2 separate regions of the Homo sapiens genome follow, and region 1 is linked to region 2. Evidence: fine-mapped expression QTL. Tissue or cell type: lung. Region 2 holds a variant in brackets; the other region holds the start of a gene. All regions are shown on one strand. Distances are between the middles of the regions.

What was found. PIP is the estimated chance that this variant, and not a neighbour inherited with it, causes the effect.
Region 1: MYBPHL starts here. The variant in region 2 is the best candidate, but not a certain one, in a credible set for the expression of MYBPHL in lung (TOPMed, PIP 0.55).

What each region holds. Positions count from the first base shown.
Region 1 is chr1:109,303,731-109,308,954 of GRCh38, reverse strand. MYBPHL (myosin binding protein H like) reads left to right here and starts at 1,944. Exons shown (of 9, transcript NM_001010985.3): 1 at 1,944-2,108. The coding sequence starts at 1,964. RefSeq lists enhancers at 948-1,686, 1,687-2,426.
Region 2 is chr1:109,450,994-109,456,217 of GRCh38, reverse strand. No RefSeq gene overlaps it. Among named protein-coding and RNA genes, the nearest start is that of SYPL2, 13 kb to the left of the region's middle. RefSeq lists a silencer at 1,365-1,565. The variant A/G (reference allele first, on the strand shown) is at 3,117.

The DNA.
Region 1 (5,224 bases), 150 kb after region 2:
AGCACCTTGGTCTGAAGATGACAGGGCAAAGCCCTTGTTCCTGAGGCCCATCTGATGGGCGAGTTCCTACCCCAGGACATTATCTAAGATCGTTGTTTTATTTGAAGGAATTCTATCTAACATGGTATTCCAAGATTTCCTGCGCCAGAGTCACTAGGTTGGTTTTTTTAGGTGCAGATTTCTGGATAGCACCCCAGACCTATTGAATTAGACTTTCTGATGGGCAAACCTTAGGAACCTGCATCTTAAAGTTGATTCTTTACACCTTCGCTCCAACAAAGGGCTAAGACTCAGCCTGGGCCAATTTCCTCACCAAAAGATGGGTTACGTGTTGTGTAAAAGGGGGTGTATTTGGGGTCTCCTGGCTAGGAGACTGTCCACACTTACGGGGCCTTGGCTGGGTCAAGCAGGAAAAATAGTTCAGAAAGACCTTCAAGCTAGTTCTGATATGGCAAAAACCCAGTCTTCTGCCAACCAAATCAACCCCATAGGCCATCCAAGGCCCCAATAAACAGATTGTCCTGGGCCTTAGCTCCTATACCAGTTACAAAGAGGCTGAGCTTCTGTCACCCCAAGATAACACAGGCTCCTGGGATCTTACCAATTACCCCAAAATTGAAGGCAAAAATGAGTAAGAAGTCAGTCCATTTGTTCAACTGCACCCATTTTTTTTCCATGAAAAAAATACAGGGGTGAGTAGGGGGCTGTGGGAACCCTATACTTTCCACTCAGCTTTGCCGTGACTCTCAAACTGCTCTAAAATTAAAGCATTTTAAAATGCAGAGGGATGCTGGCTTCTGGAGATAAGAAGGTAGGAGTATGATAGGTGGCAGTGTCCATGGCATGTACAACACGTATAGAAAGATGGTTTGCTAAGTCTGGAAATCATGTAGGACCTGTAGTATGTGACTAGCACCTGCTGTGAGCTGGCCACTTTCCTATAGATTGTATCATTTTATCCTCAACACAATCATGGCATCATCCCTTGTTTCATAGACTGGGACTTGAGACTCCGAGTCGGCCATTTGCCCAGAGTCCCAGCTGGTGAGTGAGTGGTACAGCCAGAAGTCACACGCAGGTCTCTGAGCTCGCCTCCCTCCACCACTGCTGCCTCTCCCTTTATTTGTACTTCATCTAATAGGCAAGGCAGCCATTGACAGCTCTCAAAGGGGGAAGTGCTGGCCTGACCTAAAAATAGCTTACATTTATCAAGCACTTAGTCGGCTACACTCTGCTAAGCACTTTACAGAGATTACCTCTTTAATCCTCACAACGACCCTATGGTTATAATTATCTCCATTTTACAGATGAGGAAACAGACTGAAGAGAGACTGTGAGGTGTTGTGAGTCACACAGCTAGTTGGTGACAGAGCCCCAAGTGGCACCTGGGCAGCCAGTGCGAGTGCAGTCTCCACCTACCACTGCGCTGTGCCCGCTGCCCCCGGGGAGCGGGGGAGGATGGGACAGGCCCTGTAAAGGTCGAGTTGATAAGACTTTACAATTCATTGAATGTGGGAGCAGAGGGAGAAAGAGCAGTTCAGGCGTTGCTGTGAGTCAGCTAATCCTGGGCCCCTTCTTTGGGACCTGAATGCCCCACGGGATGAACTGGAGGTCAGGAGCAGAGATGTCACTCAACCCTCCCTACAGAAATTAGAGGTCCCTTTTGGATGGTGTGTTCAAGCTCTCCCTCCCTGGTGCTGTGGGGGGTGTCATCTCTCTCCCGAGATAACAGGGACACCTCAGTCCTCCTGGGGCTATTCTGGGCTGCTGTCTGATCCTCCTCTCTCCCCCAACCCCTACTTCAGCCTTTCTGCTGGGCGTAGCTGAGTGGGGAGGGCCAGCCCAGTTACGTAACCCTGTGGCTGGGACCCGGGAGGCCAGCCTGGGAGCAGGTGCTCAGCCCCTCCCTCATCACCAGCAGTGAAAATCTAGAGCTGGAGCTCAGCCTCTGGGAAGGCCCAGCATGGAGGCAGCCACAGCTCCGGAGGTGGCCGCAGGATCCAAGCTGAAGGTGAAAGAAGCCAGCCCAGCGGATGCTGAACCACCCCAGGCTTCACCTGGACAGGGGGCTGGCAGCCCCACTCCCCAGCTCCTGCCCCCTATAGAAGGTGACCCATGGCAGGTGGGGAGGGTGGGGAGGCCGGGTGGTGGGAGTTGGGGAAGACATCGCCACCTTCCTGAACGGCGCCTCAGGTTTTCTGCAGAGCTAAAGACTCTATAGGATTGGTGATTAGGCTGGAGATCATTCGTGAGAGCCCCCATCCCCTGTCCTTGATGGAGTCTAACTTGCTGCTCAAATGTCCCTGCTAAGTTTTTGTGTTTTAGCTGAGAAGTCAGTGATGGTGTTGGTGGCACTTTACAGTGACTAAAAATGATCTGTTTATATTTTTACCTTTTAAAAAATTGTCATAGGGACTGGGAAGACCTGATATACTAATGGCCAGTCAGGAAGGGACTGAGGGGTAAGAGATAGTGACTGTCTGCTGAAGGAACAGGGAAATAAAATGCTATGGCAATGGGGAGGCTAAGAGTGGGGCAGCACAGTGACACTCGGCCTCCTGCTGGGCAGTACCACGGGGTCAGGACCTCCTCCAATCCCCCACTGCTCCCATAGGAGATCCTGACCCCTCAGAGTCTGAGCTCCACGGAAGTGGAGCTCTCCTGGGAGAAGCATTCAATTTCCCCTTCACGATGGTCTCTGTGTGCCTCTCAGCAAAGAGGCGTTCCCAAGTGAGGAATTCCAACCCCGAGCTTCCTGCCGCCCATCCCTGAATGCCCTGGCTGAGGCCTCTGTAGCTAACCACTTCGTGGCGCTCACCTGAAAGTCTTAAGAGGATGAAAAGACCACAATCAAGAAACACGTGGACTCCTAGGGCAGGAAGAGGCAGGGGAAAAGATATACTAGACTTGGAGGCAAAGCTCTAGGCTCAATTCCTAGTGCCGCCTCTAACAGCCCTGTGACCTTGGACAAGTCACTGGACTGCTCAGTTTCCATTTTCACTCTGTAAAATGGTGATTAATAACATCTACCTATCAGGGTAGTTGAAAGGATTGCTGAGATGATCCAGGGTGCCTTGGAAGAGGCCAAACTAAGATGTAAATAAATGATCAAATATTTCCAAGTGAGAGGTGAAGGCTGCGTTCTACCTCCATAGGGTTGTGCAGCAGACTCTGTCTGCCTCTTATCCTCATGGGAGAGGCCAGGTTTCCAGAAACTATTTGAATGTCAAGGGCAGAGAGCTGGCCAAGTTTGTCCCGTTGAAGATGAAGGGAGCAAAAGTTAGTGTAAATATATTAAGCTGGGGTGATGGAGGCAGAAAACCAGTTTCTTCCCTTAAAAGGCCCAGAGAATAAGTGACAGGCAGCAGGAGAATGAGAGCCAGGACTGCTGACGCCTCAGCTCTCTCTACTGGTCTTCCCAAAAGCACAAGGGAGAGTGCTCATCTCCCCCATGCTTCTCCCCTCTGGCTGCAGCCAGCTCCTGACAGCCCCCAGTCACGGGCCCGCAAATGCAGCCCAAAGCCTCTCGTGTGCAGCAGCTCTGTACACTGCAGGCCTCAGGGCCACTAGCACCCAGTGGCTCAACCCAGTGGTATCCCAGAAGTCACTGGCAATAAGAACACCTTTGAATACTTTGCAAAATATATGTGCATCTGTTAACTACTTGGAACAAAGAAGTCATGAGTTCAAATCTTAGCTCTGTTCTGTGGCCCTAGGCAAGTCAATCCACTCCCATTTTCTCATCTGTAAATTGAGGAGTTGAACCAAATCAGGGTCTTAACCTTTTGGTGGATATGGACCCCTAGGAAAATCTAATGCCAGCTGTGGACTCTTGCCCCTGGAAAAATACACAAAAAAGTTCAGAGAGCCAACAGAGCCCCAAACCCCCACCAAAGATCCTTCAGGGTGCAATGCATGGGCCTGGACTAGATGACCCCTAAGCCCCCTGAGAGCTCCAAAGCCTTTCTTCCTCCTAACTCCTCTTCCTTACAGAGAGCTCTGGGACTGAGTATCACAGGAAGCATGTGAAAACATGGGAACTAGAGCAGGCATCAGAAATAGAAATTAATTTGCAAGATCAAAACCAACTGCAAATGGCCAACAATGAGCTTTTAGTTTGGCAAGCCTGCTACATGGCTAAATAAGCAGGAGTAGGTGGCCAGCATTGGTAAACAGTTCTATGTCTGTCCTCAGCACTACACTGAGTACTGTGTCCTGGAGACAAAGCTTGGCAGGGGCCAGAGAAGAGCTTCCAAAACAGGGAGAGGCTGGGGAACAAGCTGCATCCCTCCCATGGACAATGTGACACTCGGCCTCCTGCTGGGCAGTACCACGGGGTCAGGACCTCCTCCAATCCCCCACTGCTCCCATAGGAGATCCTGACCCCTCAGAGTCTGAGCTCCACGGAAGTGGAGCTCTCCTGGAAGAAGCATTCAATTTCCCCTTCACGATGGTCTCTGTGTGCCTCTCAGCAAAGAGGCGTTCCCTGGGACCCTGAGGTGGAGGAGAAAGAGCCCATCTGCTGACTTCAGCATCATCGCTCCAACTGACTCTGTGTTCTCTTTCAATCTGAACTGTTCTGTGTCTTCCAGGCATGGGAAACTGAATCTCATGCCTAGGAGTGACCTTTCTTCCCTCCTTCCTTCCGTCCTTCCTTTCCTCCTCCTTCCTTCCACAAATATTTAGGTTGTGCCTATGATGTGCCAGGCGCTCTTCTAGGTGCCAGAATTACAGAAATGAACAAAATAGGTAAAAATAACTGCCCTCATGGAAGTTAGATTCTAGTGGAGGGAGCTAGACAATAAATAAACAAGTAAAGTATCTAATATGTCAGATGGTGAGAAATGCTGTGCCAAAACTAATGCAGGGACGGGGATAGAACGTGCTTCGGGTAGGAAGCATGCAGGCTTCCTGCTTCAAATGGAATATTCAGTGAGGGTCTCACTAATAAGGTGACATTTGAGCAGCAACTTAAAGGATGTGAGAAAGCAATGCATGCAGATATTTGGGGGAATATTTTCCACACAGAGAGAACAACTGCAAGGACCCTGAGGCAGGAGTGTGCTTTATGGGTTGGGGCCATTGTGGCTGTAGCACAGGGAGGGAGACAGTGGCAGTATTTCAGTCTGAGAGGTAGCACGGCCGCTGTGAAGACTTTGGTTTGTCTACGAGACAGCCAGCCAGCCAGTGCAGGGACTGGGAGTAAGGACTGACAGGACCAAGT
Region 2 (5,224 bases):
TAGATTTTCTGTCGAAGTCCTTTATCAGGTTGAAGAAGTTTCTCTGTGTTACTTGTTCGCTGAGAGTTTTTTTTTATCCATGGATGGATGTTGAATTTCATCAAATGCTTTTTCTATATCAATTGCTAAGAGTTGCCATTACAACATGTAATTGAGACTACTGAAAATAGATTTACATGCAAGGTGTGTAAGGAAGATAAAATGTGTTTTTGGTAAAAGATTATAAGAAGGCATGGGAATGTAAATTTTTGCCTAGTTTAGAGAGGTAAAGGATTGTTTTAAATTAGATAAGATTAAAAAACTAGATAAGATAAAGCTAAAGGCTTAAACAAGTGGTGGAAAGTTTGTAAAAATTAATCTTTCAAAAGAAATCGTGTGTGTGAACATATTGACTAACTTCAAAAAGGTATTATAGGGTTTTTCCACAAATTGAGCATTGGAATAAAAGCACAAGATTTTCTTAAGGCATTGATCTACTCTTTAACAAAATTTATAAAGAGTTATGAAAGTCTTATAAGAATCTCACCTCATGGTCAAACTGGTTAAGATTGGATAGAATTATCTATAAGGTTTCATTAAAAAAATTGGGGTTGACATTAATAATAGACTAATGCAAAGGTGAAATTTAGCTTTCTCTCCTTTGAACAGGATTTTTATGTAGTATTAAGGACAGATTGTTTGGAAAACTAAATCTTCCCTCTTAATGAGTAAAGGTTTTTGCCTTGTTTAAACTTTTTGAGTCATCATTTTGGCTAAATAAATGACTTATGGTAATCCGGAATTCTATTTCATAATATCAGGTGTTTTAAACCTTTAACATATTTGACAGCCTTCCCCAGATCAAACTTCAGTTTCAAGGTTGTCTTTTCCAACCCTAACTTTTGGGTGCCACAGAGGGCCCCTGGGGCATCCAAAAGAGTTAGGTAAACAGGGTTATTTGACATGTTTATTTATGTAGCATTGCCAAAATAATGTTTAATTCTCTTCAGGTTATATTTTAGTGAATAATGTTAACATATGTTCCAGAATTGCAAGGGATTTCTAAAATTCTAATGTCTGAGTATGTGCTAGCAATCATAATTAAGGTTACTATGTTAAGTTATTGTCAACCACAGAAATAACCAAATTTCTTTGTCAATTGTGTTTTTGATCCTAACTACCCTGAGGACATTTTGTCATTCACAGACAATTGTTGTCTTGCTTTGATTCTTTTCAAAAGATGGTTTATAATCAGCTATAGGACTTTGACAGGTGGTCTGAAATACAGGTTTCTGATAACTTTGGAGATTGCAACATTGGAATAGAGGAAAACATACAGGACTCATGAAGAGCCAAAATGTTCATGAATATCAAGCAGAATAAGGGTTCACTGAATTGACTGAACTAACAGAAAACTGAAGTAATCTTTTTATAACTTTTTGCTTAAGACATTGCTGATCCTTGTTTTGTTTTTCAGAATCAAGGAAACTTTTATTTTGAGACATTTACAGCCTTTAATAATTGAGTAAATTATACTCCTGTGAACAAAATTTGAAGCATATTTGTTTCTCCCTGCCTGGTTTCTCTATAATTTGGAAACTATTTGTGAGTATTCTTAACTTACAGCAATATAGTAATTAATTTGCGTCAGTGCAATAAGAAACATTTTCTTTTGCAACAGGACACAATTGGAGAAACTAGTTGTTTCACCAAGGCTTTGACTGGAATGATGTGCTTTCCTTTAGGGAATCAAGCTTGACTTGCAGAGCCAATAAAACCCCCCTGGGAAAACTGGTCACATGCTTTCTCTACACTGTCCCTGTACAGGGTTCCTAACCTGTGTTGAGTAAAGAAGGTCACTTTCTAACAGGCACAGGAGTCCCATGTTATCTTGAGATCTCAAGAAGAGAGGAATTTACCCAACTCATAGGTATATGAGGGTATAAACCCATGGCTGGACTTGGCTTTAAAAGGTCTTATCTGAGCTTCCTTGTGGAACAGAGTTCCATCAAAGCCAAGTTTAAAAGCCTATGTGGGCCAGGCATGGTGGCTCACGCCTGTAATCCCAGCACTTTGGGAGGCTGAGGCAGGTGGATCACCTGAGATTAGGAGTTTGAGACCACCCTGGCCAACATGGTGAAACCCCATCTCTACTAAAAATACAAAAATTAGCTGGGCGTGGTGGCAGGCGCCTGTAATCCCAGATACTTGGGAGGCTGAGGCAGGAGAATCACTTGAACCCAGGAAGCGGAGGTTGCAGTGAGCCAAGATTGCGCCACTGCACTCCAGCCTGGTGACGGAGCGAGACTCTGCCTCAAAAAAAAAAATTTTTTTTTAAAAAAAAGCCTATGTGAAAAATAATTATTCTTGCTATACTTTATGCAAATAATCAATATAAGTATAGATAATAATCAGTATAAGAGACAAGTATAAGACTAAAGTTTATTTTGCAAACAACTCAGTCCTATCATGATTTGTCTTTAACAAAAATAAGGACTGGAGAAAGAAAAATTATGTTTCAAACTTATCATACACTTGCCATTAAATTCTAATCTCATTAGTTGTTTTTAAGTTTTTGCCCACATTTTAGACTAATCCTGCTTGTTCCTGTGAACCAACCAGTGATCTCCCACTGCAGCTCAGAAGAAAGAGAAGGGATGGGTAATGTAAAAATCTGGATCAATATTCTAATTCTGGGCAATTCTCCTGCAAATCCTGCCAGGTGATAGAAGTAAATGGGGTGCTCATAACCTGGAGGTTTCTTTGTTTGGGAAAATCAGAACAAGGGAGCTAACCAAAGCCAACATGCACCCAAATCTTAGCAGGCATAACTATGGCCACCAGCTATCTGAGTGTATTGGCAGCCCTGGGATTTTTGAGCTGTCCTTACCCCCTTGTTTCATTTGATACATGTCTTCTAATAAACCAAATTGTTTATTCTTGCCTAGAGGCCATCAAACTCCAAATGATCATGTAACCGGAGACAATTGCTTGGACAATTGCTCCCTTTTACTGGGGACCCTTAGACCTCTGAGGGAGATCTGACTGCCGTTTTCGCAAAACAGCACCCCCTGTCAGCAGGAAGCAGTTAAGATTGGTCTTCATCCGTATTCTTTTTTTTTTTTTTTTTTTGAGAC[A/G]GAGTCTCGCTCTGTCGCCCAGGCTGGAGTGCAGTGGCTCGATCTCGGCTCACTGCAAGCTCCACCTCCCGGGTTCATGCCATTCTCCTGCCTCAGCCTCCCGAGTAGCTGGGACTACAGGCCCCCGCCACCAAGCCCGGCTTTTTTTTTGTATTTTTTAGTAGAGATGGGGTTTCACCGTGTTAGCCAGGATGGTCTTGTCCTGACCTTGTGATCTGCCCGCCTCAGCCTCCCGATGTGCTGGGATTACAGGTATGAGCCACCACGCCCGGCCTTGGACTTCATCCCTATTCTAATGGCGATGATATCTAATGGCCCCTCTTCAGAGGGGCGAAATGATAGTGACAGGAGGCAGCCAAATGCCTAGGCAAATTGGGGCAGGTCCCCAGTACAACCCCACCTCCAAGCCAAAGGCAGTTGAAAGCCTGGAAGCCAGGCTACAAGTTCAATCCTCCAACCGGATTGAGAACTTTTCTTCCCATTTGGTGTGCTTTCCTCTGATTGGTCCCCACTCTTCACCTATTTTACATATACCTACCCTTTCCTAATTGGTTTTTTACATTGTTATACCTACTTTAGAGTGGTGTCTTCACTTTAACCTTTTTTGCATACTCACAAACCAATCAGCATGCACTCCCCATTCTAAGTTCATAAAAGGCCCCAGACCCAGCCACACAGGGGACTTCCCACCTTCAGGTAGGGGAACCATCCCACTGTGTCCCCTCTCCACTGAGAGTTCTTGCTTAATAAATTCTACTCCACTCACTCTCTGGTGTCCGTGTGCCTAATTCTTCCTGGTTGTGAGGCAAGAACTCCGACTTAGCTGAGCTAAGGAGCAGGAAGACTGCTACACTTTCTTATTTAGACTTTTAGTATGGCAAATTAAATTGTTTTTTTTTTTTTTTGAGATGGCATTTCACGCTTGTTGCCCAGGCTGCAGTGCAATGGCACAATCTCAGCTCACTGCAACCTCCGCCTCCTGGTTCAATCGATTCTCCTGCCTCAGACTCCCAAGTAGTTGGCATTACAAGCATGCGCCATCACACCCAGCTAATTTTTTTGTATTTAGTAGAGATGGGGTTTCACCATGTTGGTCAGACTGATCTTGAATCCTGATCTCAGGTGATCCACCCACCCCGGCCTCCCAAAGTGCTGGGATTACAGGCATGAGCCACCACGCCTGGCCTAAATGGATTTTTTTAAAGAAAAAAATTACGTGTATAATTAAATTAATATATTTTATTTTGAGAGCAGTGTTAAGTTCACATCAAAATTGGGTAGAAAGTACAGAGAGTATACCTCCTCCTCCCCTGCCCAGCATCTCCCATATCAATGTCCCACACCAATGTAATATATTTATTTGTTACAATCGATGAACCAACAGTGACACATCATTATCAACCAAAGTTCATACTTTACATTAGTGTTTACAGCATTTTTTTTTTTTTTTGAGACAGGGTCTTGCTTTGTCACTCAGGCTGGAGTACAGTGGCACAATCTCAGCTCACTACAGCCTTGACCTCCTGGGCCAAAGCAACCCTCCCACCTCAGCCTCCTAAGTAGCTGGGACTGAGCACCATCACACTCGGCTAATATTTTAATTTTTTGGAGAGACAAGGTCTCACTAATATTGCTCAGGCTGGTTTTGTACTCATGGGCTCAAGCAATCCTCCTGCCTCAGTCCCCCAAAGTGCTGGAATTATAGGCATGAGCCACTGTGCCCAGCCAGAGTTTACTCTTTGTGTTGTATATTCTGTATTTTGACAAATGCATAATAAATGATATGTGTCCACCCTTACAGTATCACACAGAAGAGTTTCACTACCCTAAAGATCTTCTGTGTTCTACCTATTCATCCCTCCCTTCCCCAATTCCCTGGCAACTTACAATCTTTTTACTGCCTCCATAGTTTTGCTTTATTCAGAATGCCATAAAGTGGGAATCATACACTAGGCAGCCTTTTCAGATTTGCTTCTTTCACTTAATAATATACCTTTAATGTTGCTCTGTGTCTTTTTATAGCTTGATAGTTCATTTATTTTTAGTGCTGAATAATATCCCATTGTCTGGATGTACCACAGTTTATTTGTCCATTCATCTGCTGTAGG